2 linked regions of the Homo sapiens genome follow. The protein of the gene in region 2 purifies or fractionates together with the protein of the main gene of each other region. This does not show direct contact. Each region holds a gene or a part of one and is shown on either strand. Other genes may lie near its edges.

What was found. The genes of interacting proteins can lie anywhere in the genome.
Region 1: the proteins of LRRC17 (region 2) and LRBA purify together in Homo sapiens (affinity purification with mass spectrometry; one large-scale study listed by BioGRID and IntAct). This does not show direct contact.

Annotation. Positions count from the first base shown.
Region 1 is NC_000004.12:151,005,285-151,008,784, reverse strand, and holds part of LRBA (lipopolysaccharide-responsive and beige-like anchor protein), read left to right. Parts: intron 1-3,500. UniProt on the Homo sapiens protein: Involved in coupling signal transduction and vesicle trafficking to enable polarized secretion and/or membrane deposition of immune effector molecules. Involved in phagophore growth during mitophagy by regulating ATG9A trafficking to mitochondria.
Region 2 is NC_000007.14:102,911,718-102,915,799, forward strand, and holds the start of LRRC17 (leucine-rich repeat-containing protein 17 isoform 1 precursor), read left to right. Parts: upstream 1-1,282; 5' UTR 1,283-1,368; coding exon of another isoform or gene 1,369-1,498; exon of another isoform or gene 1,499-1,677; intron 1,678-4,082. Other genes in the region: FBXL13 (F-box and leucine-rich repeat protein 13), read right to left, coding at 1,369-1,498. UniProt on the Homo sapiens protein: Involved in bone homeostasis. Acts as a negative regulator of RANKL-induced osteoclast precursor differentiation from bone marrow precursors.

The DNA.
Region 1 (3,500 bases), on a different chromosome or scaffold from region 2:
GCTAGACTGTTCTTGAACTCCTGACCTCGTGATCCGCCTGCCTCAGCCTCCCAAAGTGCTCGGATTACAGGCGTGAGCCACTGCGCCCAGCCTAGAGGTGGCTTTTTTAAACCTTCATTGAGATATGCAGTTGACTCTTGAATAACATGAGTTTGAACTGCATGGGTCCATTTATATGGTGATTTTTTTTTTCAACCAAACTCGAATTGAAAATACAGTATTCCTGGGATGTGAAACTGTTGCATACTAAGGGCTTACTTTTTATATCACTGGGTTCCACAGGGCCATTGCAGGACTTATCTGAGTATGCTCAGATTTTGGTCTATGCAGGAGTCCTGGAACCAATGTCCCCAGTATAGCAAGGGACAACTGTATTTTACATGCCATAAAAACCACTAATTTTAGGCTGGGTGCGGTGGCTCATGCCTGTAATCACAGCACTTTGAGAGGCTGAGGCAGGTGGATCACCTGAGGTCTGGAGTTTGAGACCAGCCTGACCAACATGGATAAACCTGGTCTCTACTAAAAATACAAAAATTAGCCAGGTGTGGTGGCGCATGCCTGTAATCCCAGCTGCTTGGGAGGCTGAGGCAGGAGAATTGCTTGAACCCGGGAGGCGGAGGTTGTAGTGAGCAGAAATCACACCACTGCACTCCAGCCTGGGCAACAAGAATGAAACTCTGTCTCAAAAAGAAAAAAAAAAAAGAAAAAAACTTCTCATTTTAAGTATACAAGTCAATGATTTTTAGTAAATTTAAAGAGTTTTGCACCTATTACCACAATCTAATTTTAAAGCATTTACATCCTGTGTTCATTACTTTATAGTTTTAGCTGCTAAATTTAGGCCTATGATTCATTTTAAGTCAATTTTTGTATGGTGTGAGATAAGGGTAAGGGAAAGGTCTACATTCTTTTTTTTTTTTTTTTTGAGATGGAGTCTTGCTCTGTGGCCCAAGCTGGAGTGCAGTGGTGCGATCTCGGCTCACTGCAAGCTCCGCCTCTTTGGTTCATGCCATTCTCCTGCCTCAGCCTCCCAAGGAGCTGGGACTACAGGCGCCCGCCACCACGCCTGGCTAATTTTTTGTATTTTTAGTAGACACGTGGTTTCACCGTGTTAGCCAGGATGGTCTCGATCTCCTGACCTCGTGATCCGCCTATCTCGGCCTCTCAAAGTGCAGGGATTACAGATGTGAGACACCGCGCCCGGCCTACATTCATTATTTTGTATGTGGATATCCAATTGTTAAGAGTGCCATTTTTTTTTTTGTTTTTTTTTTTTTGAGACAGAGTCTCGCTCTGTCGCCCAGGCTGGAGTGCAGTGGCGCGATCTCCGCTCACTGAAAGCTCCGCCTCCCGGGTTCACACTATTCTCCTGCCTCAGCCTCCCAAGTAGCTGGGACTATAGGTGCCTGCCACCAGGCCTGGCTAGTTTTATTTTGTATTTTTTAGTAGAGACAGGGTTTCACTGTGTTTGCCAGGATGGTCTCCATCTCCTGACCTTGTGGTCCGTCCGCCTCGGCCTCCCAAGGTGCTGGGATTACAGGCGTGAGCCACTGCACCCGGCTAGAGTGCCATTTGTTGAAAGGCTATTCTTTTCCCATTGAATTACCTTGGCACTTTTGTCAAAAATCAGTTGAGCATAAATGTAAGGATTTATCTGGACTCAATTCTTTTCCATTTATCTATGTGTCTATTCTTAAACCAGTACCAAATTGCCTTTTGTTTACTGAAGATTTGTGGCGAGTTTTAAAATAGGGAAGACCTCTTTATTCTTCCTTTTCAAGACAGTTTTGGCTATTCTGGGCCCTTTGCATTTCCATGTGAATTTTAGGATCAGCGTATCAATTTTTGTAAAAAAGCAAGCTGGGATTTTACTAGCTATCATGAGTAGATATTATTGGTTATATATTAATATTAATGATAATTACAAGAAATTTGGGTGAATTGGTGAAATTTTAAAACTTCAAAGTTTCCTGGAAGTGACAGACTTGATAATTTAGGTTCCTGCAAGCATACAGTTTTGTTGACCTTTGAATTGATTTATTTTAAACTGAGAAATCATTTGGGAACTGGAAAATCAGATTTTTTTTTCCTGTTTGTGAATTAATAGAAAAACTAAGTAAGCTTTTTATTTCTCATACTGACCTAGTTGAACTAATCTATTATATTCACTTTTTATAAAGCATCCCTTTTCACACACATATTCTTGAAAATATTTTAAAATAGTTTTTATATGGTTGAAACAGAAATGTCCACAATGCATTTTTGTTTTATAATACTTATATAGATGTACAATAAGGTATTTTATTTATCTTTGTATCTCCAGAACTTTTTGAAGTGTTTTGATACTTCAAAAGTGTTAAATGGAAATGTCTTAATTTTTAAAATAAAAGTACAATCTTTAGGAAGCCTAGTTCCTATTATTCTTTTATTTTTATTTTATTTAATTTTATTTTTTTGAGACGGAGTCTCCCTCTGTCACCCATACTGCAGTGTAGTGGCGTGATCTCAGCTCACGGCAGCCTCCGCCTCTGGGTTCAAGTGATTCTCCTGCCTCAGCTTCCCGAGTAGCTGACCACCACTCCCTGCTAATTTTTGTATTTTTAGTAGAGACGGGGTTTCGCCATATTGGCCAGGCTGGTCCCGAACTCCTGACCTTAGGTGATCCGCCTGCCTTGGCCTCCTGCAGTGCTGAGATTACAGGTGTGAGCCACCATGCCCTGCCCTATTATTCTTTTCCGCAAAAGATATATTGTTAAAACCTTGATGCATATTTCCTTTATTATTTTGTTTCCTATGAAGTTATTTGTTAGGCAGTTTGTATTTTTCATTGTACAATTTTGAATTACTTTAGTCTGTTTTACCCTTAAGAGAACAGTGTTGCCGGGCATGGTGGCTCACGTCTGTAAGTCTGTAATCCCAGTGCTTTGGGAGGCCGAGGTGGGTGGGATCACCTGAGGTCGGGAGTTGGAGACCAGCCTGGCCAACATGTTCTCTACTAAAAAATACAAAATTAGCCAGGCGTGGTGGCGGGCACCTGTAGTCCCAGTTACTAGGGAGGCTGAGGTAGGAGAATTGCTTGAACCTGGGAGGTGGAGGTTGGTGTGAGCTGAGATTGCACCACTGTGCTCCAGCTTGGGTGACAGAATGAGATTACGTCTCCAAAAAAAAAAAAAAAAAAAGCCTGGGTAACAGAGCAAGACTCTGTCTCCAAAAAAAAAAAGAACAGTGTCATTATTTTCAAAAGTCTCTTATAATCTACTCTGTATAGTTTTCTAGTATTCATTCATTAGCTCTCATCTAATGTGGTATATACAGGGTTTTTTTTTTTTTTTTTTTTTTTTTTTGAGTTGGAGTCTTGTACTGTTGTCTGGGCTGAAGTGCAATAGTGCGATCTTGGCTCACTGCAACCTCCGCCTCCCGGGTTCAAGGGATTCTCCTGTCTCAGCCTCACTGGGATTACAGGCGCCTGCCACCACCCCTGGCTAATTTTTTGTATT
Region 2 (4,082 bases):
GAAACAAGAAAACAAGAAGTCAGGGCCTAGAGTCAGTAAGAAGCTGGTCTAAAATTCAGTCATGCTGAGGAGAACGTCAATGCCATCTCAGTCATAAAGTTATGGTAGATGTTGATGTTTAAAAAGCTACACATCAGCAGATCAGTTTTAAACAAATATGAATGTTAGATGTTTACAGCCCTAACTTAGAATCCTCCCCTCCTTGCCCCAACTCCCTCCAGACCACCCAGGGCATCAGGATACCACAAGATGTCAGTGGAGGTGACTAGGTAAGAATTCTATCCATTCAAGAACCCTGGGGGAGAAACCCATGCTGCCCCTGTATTTCCCACTATCCCAGGGAACTCTGCCTGCCCCAGTATCTAGCAACAGATGCTTAAAACTGTACTAGTACCATGTGCTTTCATCAGCTGTGCAAACTTGGGCAACTTATTCAACCACCCTGAGCCTTGGTCTCTTCATTTGTAAATAAGCATAGTAAATACATACCACCACAGCACTGTATCAGAAGTAAATCTGATCTGTGTATAGCACTCAACACAATGCTTGGCATATGGTAATGACTCAAGAAATGATAACTATCAATATTTCAGCCAGTTCTCACCTATGCTATTATTCTCATAGAATAATGAACATACTATGACACCAAATTAATAAAATACACAGAGAGGCAGAAGAAAATAAGTTAAAAGAATTATGGCTTAAATCTTTTGAAATTAAAGCAGAAGAAACTATCAATGAGGCAGTAGCTACATCCAAAGCGCCATGCCCTATCCTCTGCAACTTGATCCAATTTTCTGCCCAACTTTCCAAGTCCTGTTCCCTCAAACTTAAAATATTTTCCCACGCAGATCTCAAATCTTCATGTTATTCAGCCCAACGGTGTAATGCAATTTTTTAAATTATGAGTTTTTGTTGTATTTTCTTTTCCTATTTATCACTTATAGCATTTTACCCCCCCCCCCCCAAAAAAAAACCCATGTGGGAGTTAATTGACTTTTCAGGAATCCCATGCAAAATTCTCCCTCAAAACATTCTCTTTGTTTGTGTCTTGGTAGCAACTCCAGAGTTTTCAGGACTTGGACTCTGCTTTAGACTTGTGCTCAGACTGTCTCCACAAAAGTGGTCCGTTTCCTCATCCAATGAGCTCTGCCTGTTTGTCTGTGTGACACTCCAGTGGAAGGAAGCCAAGAGCCTATAATAGCGATCCTGGGGAAAATTTCAGCAGCTGGGGCCATGTAATTTAAAACCTCTGAAAAGTGTGCTGCGGTCCGTGCACAGCATTAGTATAACGTGAGGGCTGAATGCAGCCCATTCTCTGGAGAACTTCCTCACACACCGCAGCAAAGAGAAGACTGAAAGACAAACCTGGGTGCAGCCAGAGAGGTCCAGATAGATGAGCTTGTGGCATCCATTCCCCAAGTTCAGGTACTGTAAGCCTTTGTCTGTGAACCGTCTGCAATAAGCCAAACTAAGATTCTGTAAGTTGTGGAAGTGCCTGAAAAGACAAAAGAGAGGAAGGAAAGTATTATACTTCCGTTGTTCTCTCAAATCTTTCTTAAGCCACTATGACAAAGAAAACTGTAAATTCAACTCTTCTTCTTGCAGATGTTCAACATTTAACTTTACTGTTAACTCTCTACCTGTTAATTAAAGGAGACTACAGTGTTATATAAGGTAACACACAATACATTTAATACCTTGTAATACATTTCAAGTGAAAGTATTAATAGTTCAATAATATTTGCCTAGATATTTAAGAAAGTTGACTGGGATAAAGCTTTTTTGGTGTGTGTGAGGTGGGGGAGGCAATCATATTGTTTGGAAGTGAAACCAAATTTGCAGAGTGTATTGTTGCTTTTAGGTTTTATCTCTGGAGTACCAAAATAATGTGCAAAATATATAAAAGGACAAATCCTTTGTAAACATTTAAATGGAGACTGTTACAGGAGAGTGAGGATTTGGGACAGAAGGCAAAACTGAATATGACCATGCTCTTAAAATAGATCTGATAAGCAAATGAGTTTAAAAAATAGGTTTAAATATGCATGAGTTTGTGACAGTTTCATTATTATAGTTAAAGAAAGACTAATTGATATGCAGAGTTTAAGCATGGATTAAGAAGACCAGTTTGCAAATAAGCAGGCAACACATGAGAAGAATCAAAAGCAACATCAGAGACTATAAATCTCGCTGGAGTTGAAACAGATTAAATATGGTATTACCACAATGACCAAAATGACAGCTTCCAGAAAAAAGTAGGGTAGTTAGGATGAGCCTGTACTACCATACGAGGGCTCGCAGTTTGAGGACACTCCGTGGACAATTTCCCAAGCCCTCCAAAGCCTGGAACTTTTTTTTGAGACGAAGTTTCGCTCTTGTTGCCCAGCTGGAGTACAATGGTGAGATCTTGGCTCACTGCAACCTCCTCCCCACTCCCCCAACCCCTGGTTCAAGCGATTCTCCTGCCTCAGCCTCCCAAGTGGCTGGGATTACAGGCGCGTGCCAACATGTCCAGCTAATTTTTGTATTTTTAGTAGAGACAGGGTTTCACCATGTTGGCCAGGCTGGCCTCGAACTCCTGACCTCAGGTGATCCACCCGCCTTGGCCTCCCAAAGTGCTCGGAACAGGCATGAGCCACCGTGCCCAGAAAGCCTGGCACTTTTTAAGAGGTCAAGGATTCCCACTACTATCTGCTCTTCTAATGGAATTAGCAATCATGCTCTTAGTTTGTGATATGCAACAGCTTAATAGCAAATTAGAAAGCAAAAAGAATGAAAAGTGAGGAGAAAATGCTTCTCTGCCTCTCAAAATCACACAGGTGAATAAAGTTTACCTCCCATAAATGGGAAATAAGATATACAAGCACTGACCATTAATCAGATTTTGAAAAACACATCTATATGATATAATGATTTGCATGCCATAGCGAATTACTTGATTCAGAACACACATCCCGATCTGGGAAGGGCTGTGTACGTGAGATTCGACAGAGCGAGGGGGAAGGCTTTGGACTCACCAGTGACTAGGTGGGCAGGGCCTGAAGGAGAAAGCAGTGCTAATATCCCAAAGACACGCCCCCTCTCTTGGGGCTGTCGAGTGGACTGAGCTGTGCTAAAGTTTTGGAAATGCGTTATCTTCCTCTCCCTGGGGTACACCCTGTGATTCAACTGAGTACAATTTTCTTGGGGTGGGGAGAGGCACACCAGGGTGTCATTTCTAGCAATCCTTTAGCTTTATAATCTGTAGAAAGGAGTTGTGAGGCAGGCCGCGTGACACAGTGCAAAATACACAAGGTTTTTGAATCCGGCCAAATGAGATGTAAATCCAAGCCCTGACACTTACTGCAACCTCCCTAATCTCTCAGAGATTGTTTTCTCATTTGTTAAGTGGAGATTAAAATATTTTTTTTTTTTTTTTTTTTACACTGATCAACTGTGGGGCCTCCAGCTTTCCTGAACCTCAGTTTTCTCATCTGGAACATGGATGTAATCTGGTCTGCTTGTTCCCTTTAAAGATGTGACAATTAAATGAGAATACAGAAGTAACAGTATTATCTTGAGGGTGATTTTAACAATCAAAATCGGCAGGGACATAGTAGAAGATTTAAAACTATATGTAATATTATTGCTACTACTATGTGAAATGATAGTAACACATTAACTATTTTTATGGACTTTGTATTATTCTTCCATTTAATGAAATGGATACTTATCTCCAAGAGTGGTGCATACAATAATTCCAAGAGTTTGAAGGATTTCACATTGAATGTATACCTCGATCTACACCTAGTATTCAATTTCTTTAAATCCATGTGATCAGTTAACAAATATCAAAAATGAGAACTGAGCTAGGAGTGCTTAACTTTTTTTAATGTCACAGACACCTTTGGCTTTTGGCAGTCAGCTGAGGTCTCTGGCCCCTTTCTTGGCATAAAGTTTTTAAATGCATAAAATAAAATATATAAGATTACAAAAACAGCCAATTATATTGAAATACATAATTACCAAATAAAAAAACATTTATGAGTAGAATAGTAATATATGTGCTTCTTTATTAACATATTAAGTAAGATTTTGTG